Regions from separate parts of the Homo sapiens genome. Here all the other regions are linked to region 1. The links come from fine-mapping of genetic effects on gene expression. Tissue or cell type: whole blood. Region 1 holds a variant in brackets; each other region holds the start of a gene. Each region is shown on its reference strand, or each on the opposite one. Region 1 overlaps IKZF1 (IKAROS family zinc finger 1). Region 2 holds the start of PPP3R1 (protein phosphatase 3 regulatory subunit B, alpha). Region 3 holds the start of RIPK3 (receptor interacting serine/threonine kinase 3). Region 4 holds the start of SP110 (SP110 nuclear body protein). Region 5 holds the start of ITGA5 (integrin subunit alpha 5). Region 6 holds the start of RRAS (RAS related). Region 7 holds the start of RUBCNL (rubicon like autophagy enhancer).

Evidence for each region. PIP is the estimated chance that this variant, and not a neighbour inherited with it, causes the effect.
Region 2: it holds the start of PPP3R1, and the variant in region 1 is the best candidate, but not a certain one, in a credible set for the expression of PPP3R1 in whole blood (TOPMed, PIP 0.72).
Region 3: RIPK3 starts here. The variant in region 1 is the best candidate, but not a certain one, in a credible set for the expression of RIPK3 in whole blood (TOPMed, PIP 0.63).
Region 4: it holds the start of SP110, and the variant in region 1 is the best candidate, but not a certain one, in a credible set for the expression of SP110 in whole blood (TOPMed, PIP 0.51).
Region 5: ITGA5 starts here. The variant in region 1 is fine-mapped to the expression of ITGA5 in whole blood (TOPMed, PIP 0.97).
Region 6: RRAS starts here. The variant in region 1 is the best candidate, but not a certain one, in a credible set for the expression of RRAS in whole blood (TOPMed, PIP 0.63).
Region 7: it holds the start of RUBCNL, and the variant in region 1 is the best candidate, but not a certain one, in a credible set for the expression of RUBCNL in whole blood (TOPMed, PIP 0.52).

What each region holds. Positions count from the first base shown.
Region 1 is chr7:50,335,283-50,339,282 of GRCh38, reverse strand. All of the region lies in intron 3 of IKZF1 (IKAROS family zinc finger 1), which reads right to left. Among named protein-coding and RNA genes, the nearest start is that of IKZF1, 33 kb to the right of the region's middle. The variant T/C (reference allele first, on the strand shown) is at 2,402.
Region 2 is chr2:68,250,521-68,254,633 of GRCh38, reverse strand. PPP3R1 (protein phosphatase 3 regulatory subunit B, alpha) reads left to right here and starts at 2,102. Exons shown (of 6, transcript NM_000945.4): 1 at 2,102-2,509. The coding sequence starts at 2,507. It overlaps PPP3R1-AS1 (PPP3R1 and CNRIP1 antisense RNA 1), which reads right to left and starts at 3,031. Exons shown (of 2, transcript XR_001739527.2): 1 at 2,900-3,031. RefSeq lists an enhancer at 983-1,652 and silencers at 1,743-2,182, 2,443-2,492, 2,673-2,782.
Region 3 is chr14:24,337,952-24,341,951 of GRCh38, reverse strand. It overlaps RIPK3 (receptor interacting serine/threonine kinase 3), which reads left to right and starts at 1,961. Exons shown (of 10, transcript NM_006871.4): 1 at 1,961-2,145; 2 at 2,355-2,495; 3 at 2,628-2,937; 4 at 3,385-3,530; 5 at 3,657-3,703; 6 at 3,912-4,000. The coding sequence starts at 2,126. RefSeq lists enhancers at 2,006-2,075, 2,096-2,295, 2,526-2,595.
Region 4 is chr2:230,217,542-230,221,541 of GRCh38, reverse strand. It overlaps SP110 (SP110 nuclear body protein), which reads left to right and starts at 1,558. Exons shown (of 19, transcript NM_080424.4): 1 at 1,558-1,668. It also overlaps a transcript of SP140 not described here. RefSeq lists a silencer at 1,446-1,632 and an enhancer at 1,350-1,829.
Region 5 is chr12:54,417,459-54,421,571 of GRCh38, reverse strand. It overlaps ITGA5 (integrin subunit alpha 5), which reads left to right and starts at 2,306. Exons shown (of 30, transcript NM_002205.5): 1 at 2,306-2,591. The coding sequence starts at 2,374. All of the region lies in intron 2 of GPR84-AS1 (GPR84, ZNF385A, ITGA5 and GTSF1 antisense RNA 1), which reads right to left.
Region 6 is chr19:49,638,135-49,642,247 of GRCh38, reverse strand. RRAS (RAS related) reads left to right here and starts at 2,105. Exons shown (of 6, transcript NM_006270.5): 1 at 2,105-2,302. The coding sequence starts at 2,150. SCAF1 (SR-related CTD associated factor 1) reads right to left here and starts at 39. Exons shown (of 11, transcript NM_021228.3): 1 at 6-39. RefSeq lists silencers at 1-118, 1,979-2,368 and enhancers at 149-498, 609-708, 249-918, 919-1,588, 1,589-2,258.
Region 7 is chr13:46,385,144-46,389,256 of GRCh38, reverse strand. RUBCNL (rubicon like autophagy enhancer) reads left to right here and starts at 2,005. Exons shown (of 15, transcript NM_025113.5): 1 at 2,005-2,123. RefSeq lists enhancers at 1,229-1,338, 1,359-1,458, 1,489-1,768, 2,149-2,238.

The DNA.
Region 1 (4,000 bases):
CCCTTTCCCAGCTCCTCCTCCACAACACACACACACACACACACACACACACACACACACACACACAACCCTACCCAAAAGAATTCCTCCTTTCAAATTTCACTGTCAAATTTCAGCTGTCAGGACATTAAAAGTGTATTTAAGCTAGTGGTGCACAGATAAACCAGCTCTCAAAAAGAAAAAGCCTTGATTTGCAGCGTTCACCGATTTCTGTGGTGTAAATACTCCCAACCACGGTAGACTTCAAGCTACCAAAAGTTTACCAACAACCTGGCAGATTTTCCGCATATTACCAGTTGGCTGATTCTAGGTGGCTCACTGCTCACCGGAGCATGCTTTCTGAGTTCCCTATAAGTTTCTGTTATCTCACTGATCCTAACAGGCAAAGAGTTTAAAATTGTGAGCGTGTCTGCGGTAATTTGTGAAATGTAGGTTCCTGTTAGGGCCTTGAAGAAAGCTGGGCTTATCTGGTGGGAGACAGTAGCCCAGGCCCAGCCCTGCCTTGCCAGCAAGAGAGGGCTTGGTAGGGCAGCTTCCTGGCATGGCCCACTCCCCCAGAGCAAGAGCTTTCATTTAGTCTAACGGGTTCTGTGGAAACTTTCCGGGGCAATGTTAAGGCTGTACTCTGTTTAAGCCTTTCTACTTTTGCATAAAAGGAGGGGAAGCTGTTTTTTCTGGGTTATATTTACACTTCCCAAATCAGAAAATGCCCTAACCAGATAGGGGGACAGGTGGCAACTGGCAACCACAGCTCAACCCCCCAGCCTTTTTTTCCCCATTTCTTTCTGAAACCCCATGTAGAAGGAAAGTTAACGAAATGTCAGTTGGTTGTTTTATACACAGAGCTAACTATTCTTTCAACACAGATGGAACAAGGCAGAAAATAAAACTGGGACCAAAAACCCGGCAACAGAAAATGTTATCTATCTACTCTGACAGCACTTTTAATCTAAGGATCTCTTTATTTTCTAGAAGTTGGTTCTATTTATTGAACGAATTAGGTTCAATGTGATCTTGAGTGTAAGGCATCAAAATAAAATGAAGATTAACATTGGTTTTTGTTTATAAAAATAAGCAACTTTCCATAGTTAATCTGCACCTTTGAAGACACATAGTCATCACTGCAAGCATGGTTGAAAATGCAAGGTTTGGCATTTTTCAACCTTTCTGGTCCAATTTCTCTATAGTTTTTTTTTAAAATTCACATGTCAGATTCTGGAACATTACTGGCTATATTAAAAAACCTTAACAAATCTGCCAAAGATTGCCCTTCTGAATTTTCAAAGCTCTTACGAGTGGGAAGTACTGAAGGAAGTGAGGACGAATGTGTCCGGGCTAACTGGTGGCTTTTCCAGCAGGGTCCTCACCTGAGAAATGTGGAGACATTTTGGGTATCACAATCACCATGGTACCACTTGTGATGTGGGTGGCTAAATATCCTGCAATGGGAGGGACAGTCTCACCCAAAGAAGTGCCCCCTACATCAAATATCATCGTGCCCACTGAGAAACAGTGACCTAAAATAAGATGATGAACATCAGATGCAGCCTCAAATTCTCTCCTCTCACTTTGAAAGTTCTCTCTACTGTCCTACATGCTCCATTTGCCCTCATCTTTGAGAAAGCAGTGCCACATTCCCATTCATTCATTCAATACCAATGTATCAGACAGCACCTACTCTAGGCTGGGGGATGCCCAGGTACTGGGGATCACGCAGGGAGCAAATCAGAGCTGAGTCCTTCATCTACGAGTGGTGACGTTGCTGCTATAAGGCAGGGCAAGGAGCAACAGTGCTGAGAACGCTATCTTAGGGCATGTGTCCAGGAAGACCTCTCTGTGTGGAGACCACTGCACAGAGCCCTGAGGGAAGGGAGAAGAGCGCCAAGAGGAAACCTAGGGGATAGTCCAGGCCCAGGCCCAGCTCATAGGTGACTCACGCCGGCCTACCCTGGGGCTGCTAGTTAGATTTTAATCCTTTCTATTCTGCTAGCTCCCACTTACTGGACTTCAATCACATTTAAACATTCTCCTAAAAAGACTACCCTGTAAATACCATCCCCTAGTCCTGTGACCCCCGACCCCAACCAGCTCCTTGTCTTCTTTCTTCCCTTGGTTCCTGATGCCTGACAGCCCACAGCTGCTGCCTCCTCTCCTGTGCCGCTCCCGGTCCCTCTCACATGGTTGGTTTTGCCCCAATCCTACCGAGCCGCTTGTGGGAAACCCACCGCCAACCCCCAGACACCTCTTTCTAGGGCATTATCCTGTCCCCAGCAACTCCTCTCGCCATGTTTCTTTCTAGAAATTTTACCCGAATCACACAACTCACTCTGTCTCCTTCTTTGCTCCTCTCTTAGACAATTAAAGGCATTTACTCCCCAGGGCCCCTGTGGTCCTGCTGTTT[T/C]GTTGGCTGTCCCTCCTGAGCTGATAGTGTCCCACAGATGGAACTTGCCCTATGACTTACATCCCTACCTTCCAGACTGTTCCGTGGCTAGACACCATCCCTTGGTCTCATGCGAACCCCTACTCTGGGTACAGTTCCCATTGCATTCAGCAGAATCACTGTGGCCCCAGTCACCGAAGTGGACAATGCAGCCAACGGATGGAACCGCCTCAAAGGGGCAAACACCACGGGGCTGCTGAGATGCCCTTCTCTGCCCTCTGAGACGCCCCTCCCTGCCTTTCTTCCCCTCCTGCACCAAAGGCCTCCTGGCCTCTCGCCACCGCCTGTCCCAAGGGCGAGCTATCTGACAGGCCCCCTGAAGGGCTATTCCCAGGTCAGCAGGTTTGAGGGTTCCCTTTCCAGCACCACACCCTTTATTCCTCAGCCTCAGAGCGAGTGCGGGCCTCCTGTGCCTCTGAGCCTGCAACCCGCCCCACTCCTGCCACCTCCACCCCTTCCTAAAGAAGGGGACAGCCGAGATGTGACCCATGGTCCCCACGCACGCCCCTTCACCAGCACATGCGTGCCTGTGGCAAAATGACTCATCCCCTCCCTCTGCACCCTCCCCCTGCACCCTCCCCCTGCCCCCGCCGGGGCCAGGCAGGGCTCCTCCTCCCCCAGTGCTTCCAGCTGTGGCAACCACATGGCGTTTGCCAACTGAGTCTTCTCCGGGGACCCAGCCTGGCCACGGGCTGCACCCTGTGTTTTATCACTGAGGAACTGTAAGCTTTTTGTAGGGGTCAGTGTGTCAATGCTTCTCCCTAAAGCCACCTGCTTAACAGGAATGTCAGACATGGAGCAGGCCAAAATGCAGATGATGATGATATCAGTGCAGCTGCTCTGGACAGCCCTCTATGCTGTGCCCTGCTGGGTCAGGCTTCACAGACATGACAGCCAGGATCGGGTGAGGGGGCGCCCTCACCTCACAATGAAGGAACAGCAGAGCCACCTGCCAGGGCCAACAGCTAGGAATCAATAGAGCCAGGCCTACCTACCCACATGGCCTGCTCCCAGGCACAGCAAACACCCCAGTGGCTCAGCTGCCACATGCATGTGCACACATACACCACAGACACACCACACATCCCATACACACATACACACCACACATCCCATAAACATATACACAGCACACATCCCATAAACATATACACACCACATACCACGCTTCCCATACACACATACACACCATACATCCCATACACACCACACATCCCATACACATATAACACACATACACACTACACATCCCATACACATACAACACACATACACACCACACACCACACATCCCATACACACATACACACTATGCACCACACACCACACATCCCATACACACATACACACCACACATACACACTACACATCCCATACACACATACACACCACACACACACCACACATCCCATACACACATACACACCACACATACACACCACACATCCCATACACACATACACACCACACACCACACATCCCACACACACATACACAACACACCTCCCATACACACATACACACCACATACCACACATCCCATACACATACACAACACAT
Region 2 (4,113 bases), not on the chromosome of region 1:
ATTTAAAAACATGTATGCCTTTAGCAGGGCTATTTGGTACATACATTTTTAAAAACACATATGCTTCTGCAGGACTGTTTGGTACCTGTTCCCACTCACACTAAGCTTTACATCAAAATTTAATGGAAAGAGACAAAAAGGAGAATGACTACTTACCATACTTTTCCCCTCAGCCTTTTGATGAAAAACCTATTAAAGGTGCATTTTGGATTTACTTATCTTACTGAATTCAGACTAGTATAAATTGCCTCCAACACAACAAAATTATGGGTTATTTTAAATCCACTGTATTCCAAATAGCTCGAATTCCTTCTTAGTGCATACCCCTTAGTTAAAATAATTTGATTTTCACTGAAAATGTCCAAGGGACACAAACAAATGCAGTTAGCATGATTACCTCTGGTAAGTGGAGAGAGGAAGAATTTTGCATACAGTACTTTTTCTTAAAAAGCACGTCTTTTTATGATAAAAAACTAATTTTAAATAGTATACCTAGAAAACGTTACACATATACCCTAGGGACTTTTTCTTGTTCTGTAATATGTTAGTATCAAATAGCAACATATTTAAATCAAGAAACTTGTGGAAGAAAGTGTCCCTTCTTGGCCTTTCCTTGATACATTCACTGTGTGACACAGCTTGTTATGTCTAAGTTCTTTTCCTTATTCATCCTGACACAGAAGCAAAGTAGCTCCTGAAGGGGGAAGGGGAGGGATGGAGGGGCGGGGAGGGGGGGATTGACAGAGAGAGAAAGACAGAGAGAAAGAGAGACAGGAACCATTTAGTCCTAGGGCAAATCGCTGAGCGTTTATTAGAAAAAAATGCATGCTCATCATATGGAAAAATAATTAGCACATAAAAAGAATAAAGTTCTCATGTAAGGATCATTAAGACTTTTTTAAAAAAAAACAACACAATGGCTTTTTATAAAATGACTCAAAGGCTTTATCAATAAGGAGTTTCCGATCACTCAGAAAACATCCTCTCTCTCTCTCTCACACACACACACACACACACACACACTCTCAAACACACACGAGTGCGGGCGATTATCAAGGCTTGTAAAGGAATAACTGGTTAAAATAGTTGCAAAATGTTTTCTTCGTTATCCTCATCACACCTCTCCTGACAGCTTTATTTCTTCTCTCGAACATAAATTTCCTCCTTATGCTTTTCTGGATGTAATTTCCTATTGTAATCTGAATTTTCTGGGAAGATAATTGCCACAGGAGTGGATATAGCTCTACTAAAAGGATAAGCGGGCAATCTACATTCGAGTTTTTTTCTTTTTTTAAACAAAAACTGATGGACTCCGCCAAAGGGGAGTCTGGACGGTTTATGGGAATGCAGAGCTGGGTGGAAAGTCTTTCTGCGAGTGGGAAGTATCCCTTCTCCTCGTTTGCCCAGGTTCTCCCCACGCCTCGGGCTGCGGCCAGCTTTGGCTCGCTTCTCTGTCTTTGCAACCTGGTTCCTGACTCTGCCAATTCATATTACAGATGGGCCTGCGGGTGCTGCACCGGGGTGACAGCAGTCCTGATGGGCCGTGCAATTCTGTAGTGGATCCAAGTCGGTACACGGATGCACAGATACCTTTGACTGCCTCTCGCAGGACTTGGATTTTTCCTGTTTTTTGGTGCGGCATCCGGGTGGTTCTGACACCCTAAGACTGCTCCTCTGCTCCTCCTCTCCCGCAAGGCTTCCACTCCAGGGCCCCTGTCCCCCTTTCGCTAGCACTCGCGCACCCCTCGCGCTTCCTCCCGCCGGGGAACCCTCGCATTTCCTCCTTCCCCTCCCAGCCTTGCCTTCTTCCCCGCCCGCCTCCAGCCACATGACCGGAAGGGCTCCGCCACGCGACGTCACCGACGTCCGCGCCCCCGCCCCTGGCCTCCCCCCACCCTGCACGCAAGGGGCGGCCGGCTGAGGGGCGAACGTGGTCCGCGCGCTCAGCGTTCCCCAACCAGAGCTCGCCAGAGCGCCGCGGCACTCGCCGCCCAGCGGGGCGCGCAGGTTCCCGGATGTGCGGCGCTCGCGGAAGCCCCGCCCCCGCCCCGCGCGCTGCAGCACTCCGCTTTCCCCTCCCTCTCCGCCCTCCCCTTTTTTCGTGCCTTGAGGTTGCGGGTCAGCGCGAGCCGCTGCAGTGAGTCCGTCACGGCTCCGGCGCGAGCGCGAGGCTGCAGCCCCCGAGTTTCCCGGCCGTCTTCGCCCCCTCTCCCCCTCCTTTCTTCTTCTCTGCCTCTCCTGCCTCTCGCCGCTGCTCCTCCCGCGCTCTCCGGCTCTGAATCTCGACCTTAATTTATTTCCCCCTACCCTGCCCGCTCCCTCGCGTGCCCAATCGCCCGGCCGGCGCGGGCCCCGCGGCGCCGCCTCCCCTCCCCCACGCGCGCCCCCTCCCCGCCGGCGACCCGAGGGCCGCAGCTGGGCCGCCGCCGCCGTTTCCTGCGAGCCAGCCTGAGCGCAACACTTCTCCGAGCCAGCGAGCCAGCGAGCCGCCGACCCGCCGAGCAAAATGGTGAGACCTTGGCTTCCTCGATGCACCATCCCTCCCCCTACTGCCGCCGTCCGGGTCGGGTGCGGGGGCGAGCCCCGACGCCCCCGGTCGGCTGTCCCCCGTGGAAAATTCCAGAGACCCGGGCCCGGCGGGTCCCGCGGCGGTTGCGGGCGAGCCGGAGAGGGCGGCGGGGCGGCTGCTGACAGGACGGCGGCGGGGCCCCCGCGCCCGCCCCCGGCCTCTGCGGGGCGCCCCTCTGCTGCTCGGCCGCCGCCCCGCCGTCGCCCCACCCCCGCGCCGCCGGTCCCGCCCGGCATCGACCCCCGCGGGCACCGCTGACCATCAGCCCGGCGCACTCTCCTTCTCGCGACCCTCCTCCACGTGGAGCACCCCCCTCCCCTCCACACTCACTCTGTTTTTCGAGTTCGAGGGTATTCTGAAATCCTTTGGAAATAACAATATGTGGCAAATGGCACTTTACATAAGACCCACTTACTCTCCAGAGCTGCTGCTGCTTCCACTCACTGCCTGTTTCCCAGCAGTGAGTCTTGGCAGGGAACCCTGCCACTCACTTCCCCTCTCCTGCGAGCGTCGGTTTAGCTGCGGTGCGCAGCCCTGCGGGGTTTCCGTTCGCTGCTGCTTTGCTCGCTGCCCTGGCGAACCGGAAAGATCCAAGGTGTTTGTTCACGAAAACATACGCGAACTTGGTTTGGGAGAAATGGGGGCGCTTAATTTTTCATGCTTCCGTTACTACCAAGGGTTTTTTCATTTTCTTTGGTACCTTCTTGTGTCTCTCTCTTGGAGTGGTTGTTTTTGAATCATGGCGATTTTAATTTGTCTTTCCTTACCCTCACATTAATCCCTAGGTAGAATTCGCTGCTGTAGTGTTTCAGACCGACGCTAGGGGTGTGTCTCCCGCCTCTGTCGCTGCAGCCAAGAAATCAACGACGCCCTTTTAGCCTGTTACCTTACCGGTTCTCTCGCTCGGGGAAGCCCTAGTCGTTAGTTTCCTCTTTGTAATCAAGAGTTGTATACACAGTAGAGAAAGTTCAGAGTGCTATTCCGCGTATATCAGATACTCCATCATGCGATTCAGTTATTAGGCTTTCTCTAAAAGTCTTTGAACAGTTGTCAGAAGACTTAAACTGGTTGACGGTGGGTAATTTCTCGCATCTTTTCCACTGTATGGTATCCCACCCTGTATGTAGAATTTAAGTGCTTCAGTGTACGTGGTGGATTACTGAAGGGAGGAATGCTGTTGCTTACAACTTAAAATCGATTTGGTGAAATCGATTTTAAGGGAAGAACGTGAAATTAGAATATTCAGGTAAGTCAGCTTTTATTTAAAATATAGGGCAAATGAGTAAGTGCTTACTGGTGCACTTAAAACCCAGATTAAGAGCAGACTTAAATGATTGCCGATTTTGATGTGTAGAGAAAGTTTTTCCTTGCCAACTTGCGAGGCAGCTCAGAGAGGCAACTTTGGCACCTGAAAGTCACAAAACAATTTAGGAAGATCATAGCCATTCATCATATAATCTTTTTGTTGGCATAGTCTTTTGAAGTGAAGAATTGCATTTCAGTGCTTTAATAGAATTTCCTTATGCACATGCTTTACTTGAAGG
Region 3 (4,000 bases), not on the chromosome of region 1:
GGGACATCTGTGGTCAGAGGCATCAGTCCTCAGAAAAGACCAGAGCTCAGAATTCCAAGAATCAGCCTCTGCCTAGGTCCACCCCCATACCCCCTTGCTGGAAGCTGAGGGTCCTGTTAGGCACTTAGTCTAAGGTTCTTCTCCCTGCTCTTCCTTCTTTTAAAGAGGCTGTTTATTTTGAGTCAAAAAGTAGTATAGGCCCTGATACCACACCCAACTTTGTGCTTCACAGTGGTTTATCCCTCATTCTCAGGGTCTCGTCACAATCTGAAGAAACCCAGTTATAACACCTTTCCAAATCCTTTCTGCCTGTTCCCTTCAAGTGGAGATACTGAGCCTGGGTTATTCTCTCTAAAAAGAATCACAAAGGGAGTGGCTGCCCCTTTTGATGGCTCTCAGCTTCTGACTCTAGGCTTTTCTGAGGACCTGCTACACTTCTTGCCTTCTTGGATTCTGTGTGATACCACCATATCTCTATACTAAAGCCTACTTCAGATGGATTTCATGAACTGTGCAGGTGAGAGCCCTCAGTCCCTACAGGAACCCAATCACCTCTTTCCTCCTACTGAGTATGGAGCTCCATCTAGGATGATCAGTGCCTTAAGAAAGGCTCGATATTTTGGGTTGTTCATTTATTCATTCAATTCAACAAATATTTATTGGGTATCTGCCATGTATTGGCTTTTAAGGAGACTACGGTTGAACAATTCCCTAAATAGTTCCAAAATAGCATGAACTGACCCTGCTAGAAGCCATGGTGTGGCTCTCCAAGAGTTGTTTTAGAAAAAACTACAGATCACTTCTGCCTCAACCAGCAGAGCCCATGGACCACTGAACAAAATGGAAAGCAAGTACCAAGGTGAGCACCTTTAGTGAGAGCCAACGCACAACCCACAGGATTGAGTATCCCTGTGAAGGATTGAGTGCCTAGGGCAGGCCCTATCGGGTTCCCACAACCTCCAGTCATGGTCAGACCTCAGAAAGGTAAAATATGGACACCTTTTTTCTGCCCTAAATCTTTAAGACTCTCCATGCTTCTGGGTTATCAAAAGACTGTGTCCAGAGCATGTGCTTGTCAGGAACATTAATTAGGGTATTTGCATGCAAGAGTTGTCATGCAAGGGAGAGGGCAGGAAAGCTCTGAGGTGTTTCCACTGTAGTGTACACCACAATGTCACCAACCCTCTGGATGGGCTGATAAATCTAGCCTTACCACAATGCCCTGGGAGTGGGCTTGGGGCCTGCCACCTCCAGGAGCTCCTGTTCAAAGGGCATATAAGTCCCTATCAATGCCAAAGACTTGCCTCGCAAGAGCAGCTATAGGGACTGGGCAGGAATACAGATAGGGATCCTTCACTACATTGTTGGATGCTTCACACCTTTCCCAGCCACCTGCACGACCAGCTGAGTGGTACAGCCCTGAAGCCTATGTGAAAACAGGATAACTTGATGGTTCAGAGCCATTATTTCCATATGGGCTTAGGCAAGGTACTTAAACTCTCAGTGTCTCAGTTTCCTCACCTATAGAAAGGTAATAAAAGCAGTACCTATCCCCTTAGGGTTCGTGTGAGAATTAAATAAGCTAATATATATACCTGGTGCATGATAAGTTTTATATACGTGTTGGCTATGATCTTAGGGCAGCTGTGAGAGAGCTGAGCCCTAGAACCATAAAACCCTCCTAAGCACCATCTCCACTCATGGCCTGGCAGGTCGTGGAGCAGGAAATCCTGTGGGAAAAGGGAAGGCTTTGACTGTAGGAGTGGGTTGATTGTGGGTTCCTGGAAGGTGAGGACTCCTTCCCTAACATCCTCAATGCCCAGCAACACCTAATCTGGCTGCGGCAGGTGCTCAGGAAACGCTAGTCAAGGAGAAAGGCACTAGCTTTCGCTCTGCCCCCTGCCCCACCCCAGGGGCGGGACTGTAGAGGCGCCTATAAGGGAAGTTGTTCAGTCAACTCGGAAAAAGGGTAACAACCCGGAAAGTAGACTCACCGTCTTGGTCTAGAGACTGACCCCTGCACAGACAGACCCCTTCCCCTCTCTGCGAAAGGACCAAGCCCCAGAAGTCACTCCATCTCCTACGGCTCGCAATTTCCAGAGGCCCCCTGGCACCTTCCAGCCTGATGTCGTGCGTCAAGTTATGGTGAGTAGGGAGTGGCATGTCGATCGCAGCCTCCGACATTCACACCCAGAGAGCCCCACAGACTCGCTCAGAGAACGTCTTTGAGTCCGGGGACGGTGGGGGCCGGCGAGGGAGGCTGGGGATTGCAGTGAGAACGCCGAGTCACAGGGGCGCGGGGAGCAGCGCTGAGGCACGGCACGGCCGGCTAGTGGGCGACACCCCTCTCTCAGGCCCAGCGGTGCCCCCGCCCCCTTGGTGTCCATCGAGGAACTGGAGAACCAGGAGCTCGTCGGCAAAGGCGGGTTCGGCACAGTGTTCCGGGCGCAACATAGGAAGTGGGGCTACGATGTGGCGGTCAAGATCGTAAACTCGTGAGTGACCCCGGTTGACCCCAGCCGCAATCTGGCCAAAAAGGTGGAGCCACTGTGCTCTGGGGCCTGAATGGCGAAGGGAGGGATTTTCCCACGACCCCGGTGCGACTCCAGCTCTCTCCTGGAGTGTAGGAAGGCGATATCCAGGGAGGTCAAGGCCATGGCAAGTCTGGATAACGAATTCGTGCTGCGCCTAGAAGGGGTTATCGAGAAGGTGAACTGGGACCAAGATCCCAAGCCGGCTCTGGTGACTAAATTCATGGAGAACGGCTCCTTGTCGGGGCTGCTGCAGTCCCAGTGCCCTCGGCCCTGGCCGCTCCTTTGCCGCCTGCTGAAAGAAGTGGTGCTTGGGATGTTTTACCTGCACGACCAGAACCCGGTGCTCCTGCACCGGGACCTCAAGCCATCCAACGTCCTGCTGGACCCAGAGCTGCACGTCAAGGTCAGCTGGTCTACACCCCTCTCAGCCTCAAGACAAGGCCCCAGAGCTGCTCCAGCCAGGCCCGCCGGACACTAGACCTCCAGAGCCCTGTCTATTGAATAGGCGTAGCCTCTCTCTCTGGACACAGGGCTGCCAGGGGACAAAGCCCAGCCAGGAGTTTTAGCTCCTGCCTACCAGGTGATAGAGGCCCTGAGCCACACGAGTCATTTCCACCAGCTGCCCCACCAGCCCCTCCAAAGAGTCATGGCTGACCCAGCCCTGGAGACTCAGACCTTGACCTAGCCCTACCACAAGGCACCTAGATCTACCATCCAAGGGAACCTCTTCCCTTGACCTCCACACTCCCTTTACAAAGCTGAACCTGCACCTTCTGGGGGCAGGGGGGTTCCTGGAGGCTCTCTGGCCCCCTTGTCTTCCCTACCTCCCACTTCTTTCCTTCCTTTGCAGCTGGCAGATTTTGGCCTGTCCACATTTCAGGGAGGCTCACAGTCAGGGACAGGGTCCGGGGAGCCAGGGGGCACCCTGGGCTACTTGGCCCCAGAACTGTTTGTTAACGTAAACCGGAAGGCCTCCACAGCCAGTGACGTCTACAGGTAAGGATCCCGGCCCAAACACACAGCCAGGATTCCTACACTTCTCTGGGCCCTCCCAGGGGATGATGTATAGGAAAGGAGTCTTGCCAGTGATTGGACCGATCCTCAGCTTTGTGTCTCCTGCAGCTTCGGGATCCTAATGTGGGCAGTGCTTGCTGGAAGAGAAGTTGAGTGTAAGACTCTAGGAGGATTCTGGGATCCTTAACCCCAGGTGCCCTTCTCTTGAAAGCCCCAAGGCTTCCCCTTCCCGCTCACCTACTTAGACTGCCCTCCTCCCTCCTCGTGCCCCCACATTACACTCCCTGCCTCTTTCCATGATGAAGCAGATAATTCCCTTTTACCCTGAATGCCTTCTCTTCTCACCCTCCTCCCCTACTCCAGTGCCAACCGAACCATCACTCGTGTACGAAGCAGTGTGCAACAGGCAGAACCGGCCTTCATTGGCTGAGCTGCCCCAAGCCGGGCCTGAG
Region 4 (4,000 bases), not on the chromosome of region 1:
CACCCACAGCCATTACCCGCAAGGCCGGGTCTGCTATTCTGTACATACTAGGGTGGGATATGCTGTTTGTGCCTGCATAGAAGGGCTTGCTCTTATGCAGTTAGCCTTGGTTTCAAAGCTTCTTAAACTTTAGATCCATGTCTCCCATCTTTTATCTGAGGAGTTTGTGGATGTCCTGGTAGGGGAACTTGTGGGTCAAATACATTTGAGAATTATTGATTTAATCAAAGTTACATAGAATTCTTTTTTTTTTTTTTTTTCGAGATGGAGTCTTGCTCTGTCACCCAGGCTGGAGTGCAGTGGTGCGATCTCGGCTCACTGCAACCTCCACCTCCTGGGTTCAAGCAATTCTCCTGCCTCAGCCTCCCAAGTAGCTGGGATTACAGGTTCCCGCCACCACATCTGGCTAATTTTTGTATTTTTAGTAGAGATGGGGTTTCACCATGTTGGCCAGGATGGTCTCAAACTCCTGACCTTGTGATCCACCCATCTCAGCCTCCCAAAGTGCTGGGATTACAGGCGTGAGCCACCGAGCCTGGCCCAAAGTTACACAGATTTCTATAGTGCAGTGGTGCAATCATAGCTCACCGCAGCCTTGAACTCCTGGGCTCAAGCAAGTCTCCAGCCTCAGCCTCCTCACTAACTAGGACTACAAGGTGCATGCCACCACACTCAGTTAATTTTTTATTTTTTTATTTTTTGTAGAGATGGGGTCTCACTATGTTGCCCAGACTGGTCTCAAACTCCTAGGCTCAAGCAATCCTCCCATCTTGGCCTCCTAAAGTCCTGGGATTATAGGCATGAGCCACTGTGCCTGGCCAATAGTTTAGGATTTTTCATAGGCCCCACATGTCAATGTACATTAGGGATCTTTAAAAGGGGCATGAGAAGGGGTGTCCCTGCCAGCCCTTGAGTTACTGCTCTCTGGAATCAGCAGGTCCCAGTTCTGCCTCAGACTCCTGGCTCCCAACTACCTGCCCAGCTCTCAGCCATTTTTCTGCCTGGAGGTCTGCCTGCCTCTGCACAATTCCAGTTCATGTGCAGGTTCCCTTTCATTTCAATTTCTTCCTGTAATAATCTTATCCTGACAAGTTCTAGGCATTTCTGGCACATTCTCTTTGTTTTTTTGTGTGTTGTTAGAGTTTGATAACACACTGGATAAATTCCAGTGAATTCATTCAGTTATGTAAACATCACCACAATCCAGTTTGAGAACATTTTCATCAACCTAAAATGTACAGAATGAGGACAAGTCATGGGAAAATAGATGTGGTTAGGGAAGCATTTGGACGCTGAGTTCCCAGTTCCTATTGCCGCTGGGGCTGTACCCTTATGCCTCCTCCTCCCATACCTCCCTCTCTGGGCTGATCCCAACTGGCAACACGCCCTCCCCCAAACCCCAACTGCCAAGACGTCCTGGGAGCCTCACAAGTGCCCATGAGGAGGTGGAGAGAGGCTGCAGGCACCGACCTGCCTTCAGCTTCCGGCTTGGCAAACTCCGAAAACTTTCACTTTTCTTTTCTCGGAAGCCCGGCCCCTTACTGCGTTTGTCAAAGCACAGACTTCCTGTTTTGCCTGCTAGCATCTCCCTGTAACTCTCCCAATCTTGAGGAGTGATCCCTGTCCCAGCCCCTGGAAAGGGGCAGGAACGACAAACTCAAAGTCCAGGTGAGTTTCTGTCTTTGCTGCTTTATTCTTCGCTCTTGGTGACTGCAGCTCTTAGAGTTAACTTCGCGGCAGCAGCTGCAGGGTGGAGTTCAACTATTTAAACTCTGAGGCTCTCTCAGAGCTCAGACATGTGGTACTTATTAGGAGACTGTTAAAAGGGGGCACATGGAGGGAACACTGACACCTCTTTTTTTCGCCAGAGTCCAGCCTGTTATTGTGAATGGAGCCGAGATTTGCCCTCTACCCTCACCTAAGCTCTGATCCTTCAGTGCCCGCAATAGGCGGCTCATCTGTTATCCATTGTGTAAATGACTAGAGGTACTTGGGAAGCTGGTGGAAAAGAAAAAAATGAGAGTACATTTAATTTCGTCTCTAGTGTATCATGAACTTTTTATATATTTTCTCTAAATACATGATTATTTCCTTGAAATAAATTATTAGAAGTGGAAATTCAAAGGAGCACATGTTTTAGGACATTTGACACTGATTACTAAATCAGCCTTCAGAACATTTGGACCTGTTGACCTTCCCACTCACAGTGTCTGAGATTATTACTATTATTTTCTATCTTGGCCAATTTGATAGACAAATATGTTATCAAATTGTCTTCATTTACACTTTTTTTGGTTGTTTGTTGTTGTTGTTTTCTGAGACGGAGTCTCGCTCTGTCACCCAGGCTGGAGTGCAATGGCACCATCTCAGATCACTGCAACCTCCACCTCCCAGGTTCAAGCGATTCTCCTGCCTCAGCCTCCTGAGTAACTGGGACTACAGATGTGCACCACCACGCCCAGCTAATTTTTGTATTTTTAGTAGAGACAGGGTTTCACCATGTTGGCCAGGCTGGTCTCGAACTCCTGACCTCAGCTGATCCGCCCACCTCAACCTCCCAAAGTGCTGGGATTACAGGCATGAGCCACCATGCCTGGCCTTCTTTATGCTTTCTACTAGCTAGTTAACATGCTTATCGTATTATTCATTGCACATTTGGCTTATTCTTTTATCACTCTCTGTTCATGTATTTTGCTTTTTTATTTTCTAGTTGGATGTTTGTCTTTTGCTTATTCGTTTGCAAAATCTCTTTACATAATAAAAATCTGAACAGTCATATATGAGATGTAGTATCTTGCATAGAAAGAAACAGGGCTTTAGAGTCAGACAAGCTCTGCTTTGCCACTGAATACCTTGGGTGAGTTACTAAACCTCTCTGTGCCTCCCTTTCATCTTTGGGACTCATGACAGATGAAGAATGAGGAAGCTCTAGACTTCCTGTTCTGAGCGCTGCTGTATAATGAATTGTTCTAAAAGGAGCCTCCAAGACCCCTTCCTCTTCTTAGTATATGTTTACTCTGCCTTTCTCTGACTTTGCACTGATCTTTGCACTATCTCCTTCCCCTGTGCATATTGTGGATAGTAGATTTCTCTCCTATCTGTTCTCTATCTTCCAAGACTTCTTTACCACCACAGACTCTCAATGGCATCTTTTCTTGTTTTCCTATGCGATTGCGGATTATTCTTTTCATGAGTATTTTTTTCTGCCAAGTTAAAAAAATTGGGGAATGAGGAGAAAGAGACTAGGGTGCTTAATCTGCCACTGGGATTAAATCCCTGTAAACAGTTGTTAATTACGATTTACTTTTCTGTTCAACACAAAATGAAGTTGGAAAAGTGGAATCCATGTTTGTTCTGTTTGTTAAAAACTGTCAAGTTGATTGAATGTTTTGTTAGTGCTTTTCCTTTTCTTGACAATTTGTCAAGAATGTCATTTGTAAACTTTCTTCCCATTATAACCTATTGATATCTCCTCACAGTCCATAAATGGCCAATCTTTAATACATGCTGCATGGGCATGGGAAAAGGCGCATGTCTGAGACATGAAATGGTTGCAGTGAACAAGTCAGTTAAGTCACTTTTACTAAGTATGCCTTTCTCAGCCCTCATGCTTTTATTTATGCTTGGCCCATTTGTGTTGAAGATTGGGAGTGGTTCGTTAAAGTTTCCAAATATTACCAGGTTTCCAGCTGAACTCTACCCATTTTAGGGTGGTCCCTGTTGCATGAGCATTGCTAGTTAATGGCTTCAGCCGTAGCCCAGGTCATCTTGTTTAACCCAGATCAGTGTGGCCATAGAACACATAGTTAGCACTGTAAGCCTGGAATCAGGATTTGCTCCCAGCTCTTCCACTCTCTAGTTGTGCAACCCTGGGGCAAGTTATTAAACATTTCTGTGTCTCAGTTCCTCAACAGTATAAACAGGTGCAGTCATAGGAACCACCTCGCAAGGGTTTTATGAAAATCAGATAAGTTACTGCATATGAAACCCTTAGAACAAA
Region 5 (4,113 bases), not on the chromosome of region 1:
AACCCAGAGCAGAGGAAGAGAGGATCAGGCAAAGGCAGGCATGGTGAGAGGAAAGGCAGGAGGTGTTGGGGCCACTGGGAGAGGACTTATAAGGGCAGAAAGAGCCAAGAGAGGAGGGATATTGGGGAGAGTAGAAAGGCCAGCCAAAGAATGACTAAGGGGCTCCCGGTGTAAACAGGAGCAGGGAATGGACAGGGAGGGGGCCTGTTTGAGTTGGCCAAGGCTAGGGGTGGAGTGGGGAGGAGGACTGGGGCAGGACGCTATGTCCCCTGTCCCCCACCAAGGCTCCTGGGAGGAGCTGAGTCACACACCTCCTTCCCTGCACCCCTCCCCACCCCCACCCCTAATCTCCCAAATCCTGGGAAAATCTAAAGAGTTTGCCTAGACTGAGAAAGGAGAGTGTTTGGTTCACACACGTGTTTTGCTGGGCTAAAAAGCAATCAGGCCTCAGCCCTTCTCCTCCCAAAGGGGGTTCCCAGCCCATGGCTTGAGTAGCTCTCACCTAAAGGTTGCCTTTTTGGCAATGCTGGGCTTAAAGATCCTGACCCAGAGATTCCCTGGGTTCCTCACCTAAGAAAGGGTCAGGACTTGCAGATGTGAGAATGGGATACGGGCCAGCATTGCCCCACAGTCTGGCCAGCCAGCCTCTCCCTTGGGCTGCAGCTGGCTCTGGAGGGGGGCTTTTAAAAAAGCAGATGGGTGATTTGGGACAGGAAGTGGAGTAGCAGAGTGAGGGGGAGAGTCATGGCAGGAAAAAAACATTGACTCTGGGCACTCTTATTCTGAGCCTTTCAGCCCGAAGTGGGGCAGGGGACTGGAGAACAGAAGGGACAGGGTTGACAGGATATTATTGACAGGGTATTATTCTGGAAAGTGAGGAGTCCTGGAGGAAAGAGACTGAAAGGACTTGTAGTCCCCTCCCCCAGACTAAGATAAAGGCTAGAATCCTGAAAAGTGATCTCATCACACAGAGCCTGAGCTTGGGGAAGAGGTGGGCAGGGGGTCACTGCCTTCCCTTTCTAGAGTCCCTTCCTCTACTTCCACAGGGGAATCTGGGAAGAATGGGGTCCTGGCTTTCCGCTCCCATTGTTTTTTTGGTTTTTGGTTTTTGGATTTTTTTTTTTTTTTTTTTTTTGGATACAGTCTTGCTCTGTCACCCAGGCTAGAGTGCAGTGGTGCAATCGCGGCTCATTGCAGTCTCTGCCTCCTGGGTTCAAGTAATTATCCTGCCTCAGCTTCCCGAGTAGCTGGGATTACAGGTGCGGACCACCACATCTGGATAATTTTTGTATTTTTAGTGGAGATGGGTTTTGCCATGTTGGCCAGGCTGGTCTTGAACTCCTGGCCTCAGGTGATCTGCTCACCTCGGCATCCCAAAGTGCTGGGATTACAGGTGTGAGCCACCGTGCCTGGCCAGAGCTCCCAGCGTTTACAGCCATTAGGAGCTGAAGGTTGGGTCCCTTTGCAAGACTTTCCACCACCACCACCACCTCTCACAATTCTCCAGGTTTGTAGGAACCCGGCCAGTTTAATCAAGCAGGTACTGAGGGGCCAGCCACTCGCAGGCTTTTGGTCAACTGTCAGATCCAAGGAAGGGGCTCAGCAGAGGTTTACATACCCTAGGACCAAGAAGGGGGCAAACTGGAGCAGAATCCTCCTGATGAATGACCCCAAACTCCTGGGTTTTCAATACTAGCAAGCTTGGAGGAGGAAGCAGCGGAACTTGAGGAGCCCGTGTAGGTCCTCTAGCAAGCTGACTGCGAACGCTGTCTCTGTACCTCAACTGTTGTGTCCCAAATCCAGCTGGCCAGAACCCAGGCACCCGGCGGCCCCGGAAGGCAAGGGGGAATCCCAGTTGGCCGGACGCCAGAGGAGTCTCCTGTCTCTTTAGACCCCAAAGTCTCCTCCCTAAAGCACTGAGGGAGACCCCACACACATATACAGGCTTCCTCCGCCCACCAGAGGTGATTCCTTTCCTCATTAGGAAATTCTCCGCTCCCTTTTCCGACTCGTTTTCCGAGCGTTTACGTTGTACATCTGGAAAGGAATGGGGAGGAAGGAGGGGGAAGCAGAGAGGAGGGGGAAGAACCCAAACCCGCCCAGTCTAACCCAGTCCAGACAACCGGCTTCCAGCTGGGGCTGGGGAAAGGGGGTTGGAGGGGTGCGCCCCCCCCCCACGCCCCTTAGGGGTGGGGGACGCGGGCTCAGAGTTCCAGGGACCCAGGAATGCCCCCCCGCCAGCCCCCTCGGCAGGCGGGGGGAGGGCTCAGCCGGGAGTTTGGCAAACTCCTCCCCGCGTTGAGTCATTCGCCTCTGGGAGGTTTAGGAAGCGGCTCCGGGTCGGTGGCCCCAGGACAGGGAAGAGCGGGCGCTATGGGGAGCCGGACGCCAGAGTCCCCTCTCCACGCCGTGCAGCTGCGCTGGGGCCCCCGGCGCCGACCCCCGCTGCTGCCGCTGCTGTTGCTGCTGCTGCCGCCGCCACCCAGGGTCGGGGGCTTCAACTTAGACGCGGAGGCCCCAGCAGTACTCTCGGGGCCCCCGGGCTCCTTCTTCGGATTCTCAGTGGAGTTTTACCGGCCGGGAACAGACGGGTGAGTGAGGAGGGCTGGAGACGGGATGGGGGTGGGGGAGCCGCCTGGAGACTGGGGGCGCGGCTGGGGTCTGGAGGGGACCAGGGCTTAAGTTTGAGGGTGGAGTTTGTAAGGAATAGAGCTGCAGTTGGGGGCCCTGGCTAGAGTTGGGGGCCCGCGCTGGAGTAGGGAGGGCACCGTGGCGGGTGAGGAGGGGCCCTGGCGTTTGAGATCAGTGGGGAGACATGTGTCCGGTGGGGAGAGGACACGGAGCTGGAGAAGTCTGGGCAGGGGTCTCCGGGCCAAGGGAGAGGAGAGCGCGTGAATGGAGAGCTGAGGGTCTCTGGCTGAAGTCTGTGGGCTGCTGGGACCTGGGGCGGGTGGGGGCGCAGAGGGGGCGCAGAGGCCGGGAAGGGCTTTTGGGGGCTCCAGGAGACCTCGGGATCCGTAGGGGCCATTGTGCGGCGAGAGAACGGGTAGAAGCCGAATGAGCTACGTGTAGTAGGAGGAAAGTCAAAGACTGAGGGGGTCGGAAGGTTAAATGGGGGCCAGCCTCATCCTCCCCTCCCCCCTCAACTCAGACCGGGGAAAGACCCGAGAGAGGACGGCGGCTCCCTCTCCTTTCTCCTCTGTCTCCTACTCCTCCCTCCGCCCCCAATCTCTGTTCAGGCGAGGGGATCCGAGAACTGGGGGCGAGTGCGGGGACCCTGGCACTGGGGCCCTGGGGCTGGGGGCGAACTCAGCCAAGGGCGGGTGCTGGGATGTGTCGGGAGGGGTGTGTGCGCGCGTGAAGGGGGGTGGGCGGTTTCCCTCTTCCTCTGGCTCTTGGGAGGAAGAGAAAAGCTGGTTTCCTGTAGCTGGTCGGCTGGAGCTGTGCTGAGACCGGGACTTCTGGGGCTGGGGTCGGAAGCTGGGGAGACGGGGGCTCCGTGGGGCCAAGAACGTCAGAATGAAGGACTCAGGACCCTGGAAATCTCAAAGGAGGATCCTTATTCCCAACTCAGCACAGTGATAAGCAGACCCGGACCCCGAGTGCCTAGAAAATGGGGTACTGACAGGCTTGGGAAACAGGAGTTAGAGTGGAAGCAACATTAGAACCAAGGGTGTCTGTTTAAATGTGGGATGGCGGGGAGATTGGGAAGCAAGAGAGGTAGGTGGTTGCTCCTGGGCTAGGCCATAGATGCCAGATTCCTGGTCCTCCACAATGACTGGTGTAATCCTTTTTCTTCTACATCTCTGAGCTGGGAGCTTCCTACTGCTCACCCCCACCCCAACCCCAGGATCTCAGGGTTTGAGGGGAATTCTGTCAGAAGCGACCTGTTTTTACACATGAGACAGTTAACTGATCTCTACTCAGTCCCTATAGTTTTTGGAGAAAAGGGGTTAATCTAGCTAATACAACTGGGGAGAAAGGCAAATTCTCCTTTGTCTGGAGGACTTGGGGATGGGAGAAAAGAAAAATGATTAGGCCCCGACTGTTGTTCTGGGCTATTCAAGGTCCCCACCCAACCCCCACCCCACCCCCCTGGCCTTTTGCCCAAAC
Region 6 (4,113 bases), not on the chromosome of region 1:
CTTACCCCGCCGCTCGGGCTGCGGCTCCGGCCCCGGCGCGGGGCGGGGCGGGCTGGGGCGGGGTTCGTGAGCAAAGGAGGAGAGAGGCGGAGCTAAAGCGCCGCCGAGCTTGCCGGGATTTCAAGTACCGAGCACGGCGACGTGAAGGCCGGCGGGAAGGCAACCGCACTCGGTTTCCCAGAAGCCAATGGGACACATGGGGCGGGGTCCGCGCGATGCACGCCGGGAGGCGTAGTCCGCGCACCGCCTCTGTCGCGCGGGGACAGCTAATGGGGTGAGAGGTGAAGTGGGCGGGGCCGCGGTAGCCCGCGATGACGCCCCACAGTGCCCTGCGCGCGCGCGGAAAGGGTGGCGGAACAGGAGGTGACGTAAGAGGCGCCAGGCAGAACAGACGCAAGGGAATTGTAGTCCGGCGGAGTGAGCACGACTTGCTGGATGTTGTGCTGCCCACATTCTGGGGCTCTCAGAATCCAGATCCTCTAGGCCCCCCTAAATTTAGAACCAGACGGGATGCAGTGGCGCACACCGTAGTCCCACTCGGGAGACTGAGGCGGAAGGATGGCTTGAGCCTAGAAGTTAGAAGCCAGCCTAGGCAATATAGGGAGACCCCGCCTCTAAAAAAATAAAAATAGGCCAGGCGCGGTGGCTCACGTCTGTAATCCCAGCACTTTGGGAGGCCGAAGCAGGCGGATCATCTGATATCAGGAGTTCAAGACCAGCCTGACCAACATGGTGAAACCCAGTCTCTACTAAAAATACAAAAATTAGCCTGGCGTGGTGGCTAACGCCTGTAATCCCAGCTACTCGGGAGGCTGAGGTAGGAGAATCGCTTGAACCCGGGAAGCGGAGGTTGCAGTGGGCCAAGATCGCGCCATTGCACTCCAGCATGGGCTACAAGACGGAAACTCCGTCTCAAAAATAAACAAATAAAAATAAACTTAGAACCTAGAAGCCCGACCCCATAGCCGCCTCGTTCAGTACAGAGAAGTCTGAATTCCGAATCCTCTCACTCAGAGCAGTGTCCAGACTCCTATTTCCCTCCTCCCTCCGACTCAGGAGTCTGATTCTTCCTTCCTCGGATCCAAGAGTCGGTCTCCCAGACTAGTCCTGGTCTCAAGCTCTCACATACGAATTCGGGTCCCCCCAAGCCAGTGCCCTCGCTCGGATCCAGAATCCTGGGTCCCCAGCCTCTCCAATTCCTGGACCTAAGAGTCCAGGCCCCCGGCTCCCTCCTTTACCGAACCTAGTACGAAGGAACCTGTCTACCTTCCTCCCTGACACCCTCCTCCCCAGGACCCAGGAGTCCACATCTCCAGCCCCATTTTCTCCTAAGGACCCAGGAGTCTGGGCCCTCTGCTTCCTTCTCCTTCAAGACCCAGAAATCCTGGCCCCAGGCTCTTCATGACCCAGGCATCCCTACTTGGGCGAGCTGGCTCATGGATTAGGAATGCAGTGATCTCACGGCCCCTCCCTGCCCCGTTACCCTGCTGTCCCCCTCTAGGGCCCCACTCTCCTCCCAGTCTGTCTTCCGCTTGGCTGGGACAGCGGGAACCGGAAGCCTGGGTCCCTTAGCGGGCGGAGACTCTAGCTTCTAACCCAGACGCCGGGGTCGAAAGCTTGGCTAGGATCCCAGGAGGGAGGTGGAGCTACTCCTCAAAACCTGCTGCTTCCTCGGAGCGCCCTATATACGGCCGCGCGCGCGAGTCGACGAGCTCCGCCTACCATACTAAGGCCTCGGAGACGATGCCCCAAGCAGCAGTGTCACAGGGGTCCTTATTTGCATAGCCCCTCCCCTGAGGAACTTTCCGCCCCGTCTGCTGAAAGAATAAATTCTTATTAGCATAGCCACGCCCACAGACCGCCCTCCCGCTGAGAGCGCGTGGCGCCGCTCAGGGCAAAGCACAGGTCTCTCATTAGCATAGCCCCGCCTCATTCGGAATTCCCCTTCGCAGCGAACGCCGTTCCCTTTCCCTTATTAACATAGCTCCTCCCTTTCTTTGGCCCGTCCCCCTCCTTAAGTGTCCGGAGACGCGAGCCCTCCTTGCCAGAGCTCATGATTATGCAGTAGCCTCATTAGCGTAGCCCGCCCCCCCGGGTCCCGCCCGGCTCCCCCGCAGGCGGTAGCGAAGGCAGCAGCAGCGGTGGCGACATGAGCAGCGGGGCGGCGTCCGGGACAGGGCGGGGGCGGCCCCGGGGCGGGGGACCTGGGCCCGGGGACCCCCCGCCCAGCGAGACACACAAGCTGGTGGTCGTGGGCGGCGGCGGCGTGGGCAAGAGCGCGCTGACCATCCAGTTCATCCAGGTAGTGGGCCCTCACCCGGGAGGGTGTCCCCCGGGACCCAGAACTGAGCCCTTGGGGGGATCCCCGAGACCCCTTTTCCCCCTTGACCCATCACTGAGACCCTCCTATAAGGCCCTCTAATCTTAAAAGATCCCCACAGATTGTAACCTAAACTCTTGGAGAGCCTCCATCCCCTGCACGGGGGACCCTTCCTTCTGCACTCGCATCCCGAGACCCACTATTCCCTCTCCCAGTGCCTAAGACCCCGCTTACCTGCTGACCTGGCTTTGAGCACCTCCTGGGAGCATGCTAAATACAAAATACTCACCCCATTCGGACCCTAAGCACTCCCAGGACCCCCACCACGCCCTTGGTGCCACCTTCCACCACCCTGAGCCCTATCTCCCCCAAATCCCAGTCCCCAACTTCCCCTCTAAGCCATTGAGAGCCTTCCTGGGAGAATGCCAGTGCCCAGCACCTTTGAGATTCCACCACGTTCGATTCTTTTTTTTCTTTTTTTTTTTTTTTGAGACAGAGTCTCACTCACTCTGTCACCCAGGCTGGAGTGCGGTGGAGTGCAGTGGTGCGATGTTGGCTCACTGCAACCTCTGCCTCCTGGATTCAAGCAATTCTCCTGCCTCAGCCTCCCAAGTAGCTGAGACTACAGGCGAGTGCCACCATGCCTGGCTAATTTTTGTATTTTTTAGTAGAGACGGGGTTTCACCATATTGGACTGGTCTCGAACTCCTGACCTCGTGATCGGCCTGCCTTGGACTCCCAAAGTGCTGGGATTACAGGCATGAGCCACCGTGCCCGGCCCCACGTTTGATTCTTAGCCCCTTCCATGACTGCCCCCAGAATCTAGAAATTCTACCCAGACCCTGGCCCTGAGACTCTTCTGGGACTACCCAGTCCTAAGAGAGTCCTGCTCTCCGACCCGAGATTTAAAAAGACATCCTGCCCCTTGGCCATTCCAGAAATCTCCAAGACCCCAAGTCCTGACAATCCCCCATTCCCGGAGGCCCAAACCTCCACTCTCCCACCCCACCCCCAAGGAAAACCAGCCCCTCCTCCATCCCATGCTTTCTCCGCTGCAACTCCCTGAGCCCCTCTCAGAAACCCTGAATAGCTCTCAAATCATCTCCATGGAAGAAGCCCCCAGATTCTTGGCACCCCCAGAAAGATCTATTCCTTGGGAGTTTCTCTGACCCCATAAATGAACTCAATGTTTCTAAGACTGTATATACTATAACCTCCCAAAACCCCTGAGCCACCTCCGGGCTGGCTCCCAGTTCTCAGCCCTGAGCTTCTCACGCTGTGCTCTGAGGTCACGCCCCTAACTACCCCCAGAGCCACAATCCCTCCCAGGGCTTGATCCTTACAGCCTCCCTCCAGGACAAGCCCCTCACCAAGCACCCCTCTAACCGACAGATGCAGCCTTCAGACCCCTAGCCTCCACATCACCCCCTTTCCTGAAATTCCACCCCAGCCCAGGAAACCTCCTCCCCATTCCTGAGGGAGGTCCTCCCAGCTTCAAAGAAATCCTAGAAAAGTGTCTTGGCCTGACATGCTACCGCAGAGGCCCCGGGGCCCCAGGACACCCCCCTCACCCCCACCAAGAGACCCCTTCAAGGGCCTGGGAGGAAGCCCTGCTTGTGTAGAGAAAGGCCCCAGCCCTGGGCCCCTTGCACCCAGAGGCAGTCCCAGAGCTGGCCAAAGGCTTGGCTGGCAGCGGGCAGGACCCAGGCAGGAAGGGAGGGGCTGGGGCCCGAGGGTGGGGCAGCCTCTCCGCAGCCGGATTGGAACCGGGACCTTCCCCTGGGAGGAGACGC
Region 7 (4,113 bases), not on the chromosome of region 1:
TATTAGCTCTGTGACCTTGGGCAAGTTATTTGAACCTAAGTCATAGATTTCCCCCTTGCGAAATGGGAACAAATGATTTGTTATTCTCAGGGATGTTCACAGACTTGCTTAAAATAATAAGAAAAAGTACCTGGCACATAGCCGATACTCAAAAAATGTTAGCACACACCCACACCTTTTTCTTTCTGATTCATTTAAGGTAAGCCCTTCCCAATCGGCCTTCAGCTGACCTGAATTCCTGGGATACTGTATTTGGAATTTTAAATATTCCAAATATCCAGAGTTCTTGCAGGTCAAAGCTGGTCTATGCTCCAAACAGGCTGCCCCCAAGGGAAGCAGGGTAATTGGCAGCTAGTATTCATCTGACTTTTGTCATATTGATTCAATATTTTATCTGAAGATGGCAGCAACTAGTACATGGTGCCACCGTTTAGCCACTCCATGCCAGAGGTACCAGGCAAGTAAAAGCCAAATTACCAGTGCCTCTGCTCCATCCTGGAAATGACAAAGGACAAAGCCAAGGAACCCAGGAAAGTGCAACGGGATTTGGTTTTATGCAGCAGGGAATCTTCTAAGAAAGCCAGGACCGGTTCACCTACGTGTCATTACCAGTGCAGGCAGCTCAGAGGTCCTTCCCCGGGAGAAGTCAGGGCACCGCGAGAGAGAGCTTAGCTTCCTTCCTTCCTCCATCCCTCCCTCCCTTCCTTCTGGGACTTAGGTTCCTTCCTTCCTTCCTTCCTTTCTACTTTTCTTTCCTTCCTTCCTTCCTTGGCTTTGGTTCCTTCCTTCCTTCTACCTTCCTTCCTTCCTTCTTTCCTTCCTTCCTGGGCTTAGGTTCCTTCCTTCCTTGGCTTAGATTCCTTCCTTCCTTCGCCCTTCCTTCCTTCCTTTCTTTGCTTTCCTTCCTTCCTTCCTTCCTTGGCTTAGGTTCCTTCCTTCCTTCCTTCCTTCTTCCCTCCCTCCCTCCCTTGGGTTCCTTCCTGCCTGCCTGCCTGCCTTCCTCCCTCCCTCCCTCCTTCCCTTCTTCTCCTTTCTGTTTTTTTTTTTTTTTTTTTTTGACAGTCTTGCTCTGTCGCCCAGGCTGGAGTGCAATGGCGCGATCTCGGCTTACTGCAACCTCCGCCTCCCGGGTTGCTCCTGCTTCAGCCTCCCTAGTAGCCGGCATAACAGGCACCCGCCACCACGCTCGGCTAATTTTTATATTTTTAGTAGAGACAGGCTTTCACCATGTTGGCCAGGCTGGTCTCGAACTCCTAACCTCAAGTGATCCATCCGACTTGGCCTCCCAAAGTAGGTGCTGGGATCACAGGCTTGAACCACCGCACCCGGCCAGAGCTTAGGTTTCTATTCGTGACAACTTTCTGTATTGGTTGGCAGGTTCTCCTAGCACCACCATGATCTCAGGACTAACCACTGCACACCCGTGATGGGATTCCAAACCTTCGCTGCAAGAGGACAAGGTGACGAGTTGCTGACAGTGAAGGCTAAACTAACGCGGACAGTGAAGTGCTACATGAGTCGGACTCAGACTCCAGGTGAAGCAGCCAGCAGAGGTCAGAGAGAGACAGCTCACGTTCCGGGTAAGTTGCAGGTCGATTTCAGGGCCGACTCATCCAGATTACTCATTCTTCATTTCAGGCAATTGTATGACTGCTAAATACTGCTGCTGGGGGCATCTGGGGTTGGGAAGTCATTTCTGCCAGGTCTTTGACCCCTGAAAGCGTCGTTGCGTCTCGCGCCGCGGGTAGGCAGGGCGGGATTTCTAGGAGGACCGGCAGAGGCGCGCATAGGTGCGTGGTGCTGGGCCCGGGCGCCGCGGCACCGGTGTAGGAGCGCGCATCTCCAGAGTTTCTTCCATCTGGGCGACGTCTCGGTGCCTGCGGCGGGAACGGCGCTTTGCTTCCCTGAGGAGCTTCTAGAGAGCTACGGTGGCCCCCGTGTGGGAGGCGGGGGGCGTGGCGGCGTCGGGGCGTCGCTGTCCCCTCCTCGGTAGCTCTCCTCCCTCCCCTTTCTGCTGTTACCGGGAGCGCGGTGGCCACGGAACGCTGCCCGGAGCCGCGCGAGGGAGGACCCGACGCGCGGCGTTTACCCAGCGCAGCGTTCCACCGCTCGGGTTTGGCTGGGTGAGGCTGGCGGGGCCGGGGGCGAGATGGGAGCGGCGCGGGGTGGAGAGGGTGGTTGGAGAAAGGGAAGGGAGGGCCGCGGGAGAGGTTGGATGGTGGAAGTGGCGCCAGAGAGGTTTGTGCCCAGCAGAGACACCCAGGTATCTTAGGGTCGCTCAGAGCAGTGTCGGGGACCCCTTGGAGACAGTAGGAAGGGGCTCCTCGCGGGGTGGCGGATTTCTATCCGGTTGACTTTGTAGAGTGAGGTTGACCCTGTGTTCGGCTTGGGCCGGGAAGGGCGCAGAAGCGGGACCTCAGGACACTTTTACGCAGGGCGATTCTCAGAGACTACAAAGCCTGCGCCCTGCGTCCTCCCAGGCGCAGTGTTCTGGGATCAGTGTCTTTTCTCTGTTTTCGTCCTCAACACAGCCAAAGTCGTGGATATGTGGTGACAGAAAAACATTTGGCTACATAACTGAGCTAGGCTGGAGTGTGAAATCGCGGCGTGTTATTTGGTCCGGGCGCCCTACATAGCAACCCCCACTCTTCTCGCCCCCAACCCCCCGCCACGCCGGACACGGTCAGGCGGGCGTTCCCCCAACCCGCCCCTTGTGAAGTCCACCTGCTGAGACTGATACAGATCCCCTGCGAACTTGATGCTGTCCGCTTGGAAAACGTGGAGAACTTTCAGAGGAGGGGTTATTTCGCCTTGAGTGAAAATTAAGACTCAAAGGAAAAGGTATACTCAAGAGCTGCCCTTACTGGGTTATTTCTGTGGAATTTGGAAGGATCTTTGAATTGAAGATGTGGTGGGAGCGCGCAGAGAACAGAGAATCCGTAAGCTTGAGTTTCTTAGACCCAGTTTCTTAAAGCCAAAGTAGCGGGGAGATCTTGGCAAGTCAAGAAACCTTCTTGAACTTCAGTTCCCTTGCCTCAGGGGGAGAATACTCCAGCCATACCCCACTGTGTGGTTTAGAAGGTTAATGGCCTGGAGGGAGGGAAGTGTTTTGAAGCCTATAAAGTATCCTGTGAAGGTATCACCACATTGCTGCCCACTGAAACACTGCCGGCCGCCGACAGAACTTTGTTTGGAGCCGAGTTAAGACAGCATCTTTATGGCAGTGCTGGGGTTTTCGTGATTACCGGTCCAGAGTGTCAGGACACCTCTGTTTCTCAAACCCCAGTTTCTGCACTGCCACATGAAACTGCTCATTACTGAGTGACAGCAGAGGACAGGAACTTTGCCTTCTTCATTAACTTCTTTAGGGCCTTTACAAAGTGGGAGATGGTAGGAACTTTGATGAAAATTGAGGGTCATAGCCTTGGAGCGGGGTGAGGGGTTAGATTTGACTGGACATAGTCTTCATGCAACCGTTTAACAACAAAAACATTGTTGGCTGAGTTCTTGTTTTTTGATACAAGGAACATTCTGTCGGAGCCAAGGTTAAACATCCAAGAGTAAACGTTTGTTGGTTTTTTTTTTTTTTTGCATGATCTTTAGAGGATAAGTAAAAAACTAAAGAAAGGCTGCATTGCTTGCTGACACATTTTTTCCCCACCCATCTGAAGGCACACAAATAATAGCACTGGCAAATTTGAATAGTTTCCCTTGTTACCAAATCTACGTTCTTATTTCTAATATGGAACGATTATTTCTAGTATGGAGAGAAATATGGAATTTCTAATATGGAAGATTTAGCATGGTGTGTCATTGTAAAAATTTAGGCAGTTCTTGGATAAGTATGTCCAGCCTTCCAGAGACTATAAGTGTAGTAATATTAGTGCCTGTTAGTCATATTGTGTATCTTCCTGATACCCAATTAGATCTCTGATTGTTTTTTCTTTTTAATTAAAAGGAGCTGAAAGATGACTCAGTTAAGAAGCTGGAAAATAAAACCAGGTCTCTGTAACTGTGCTGTCTTATTCTGAACTGAAAGTCTTTCTGCAATAATAATGATGGTGATAATAAAGCTAACCTTCATAGGACATTGTGTACCAGACTGATACACGT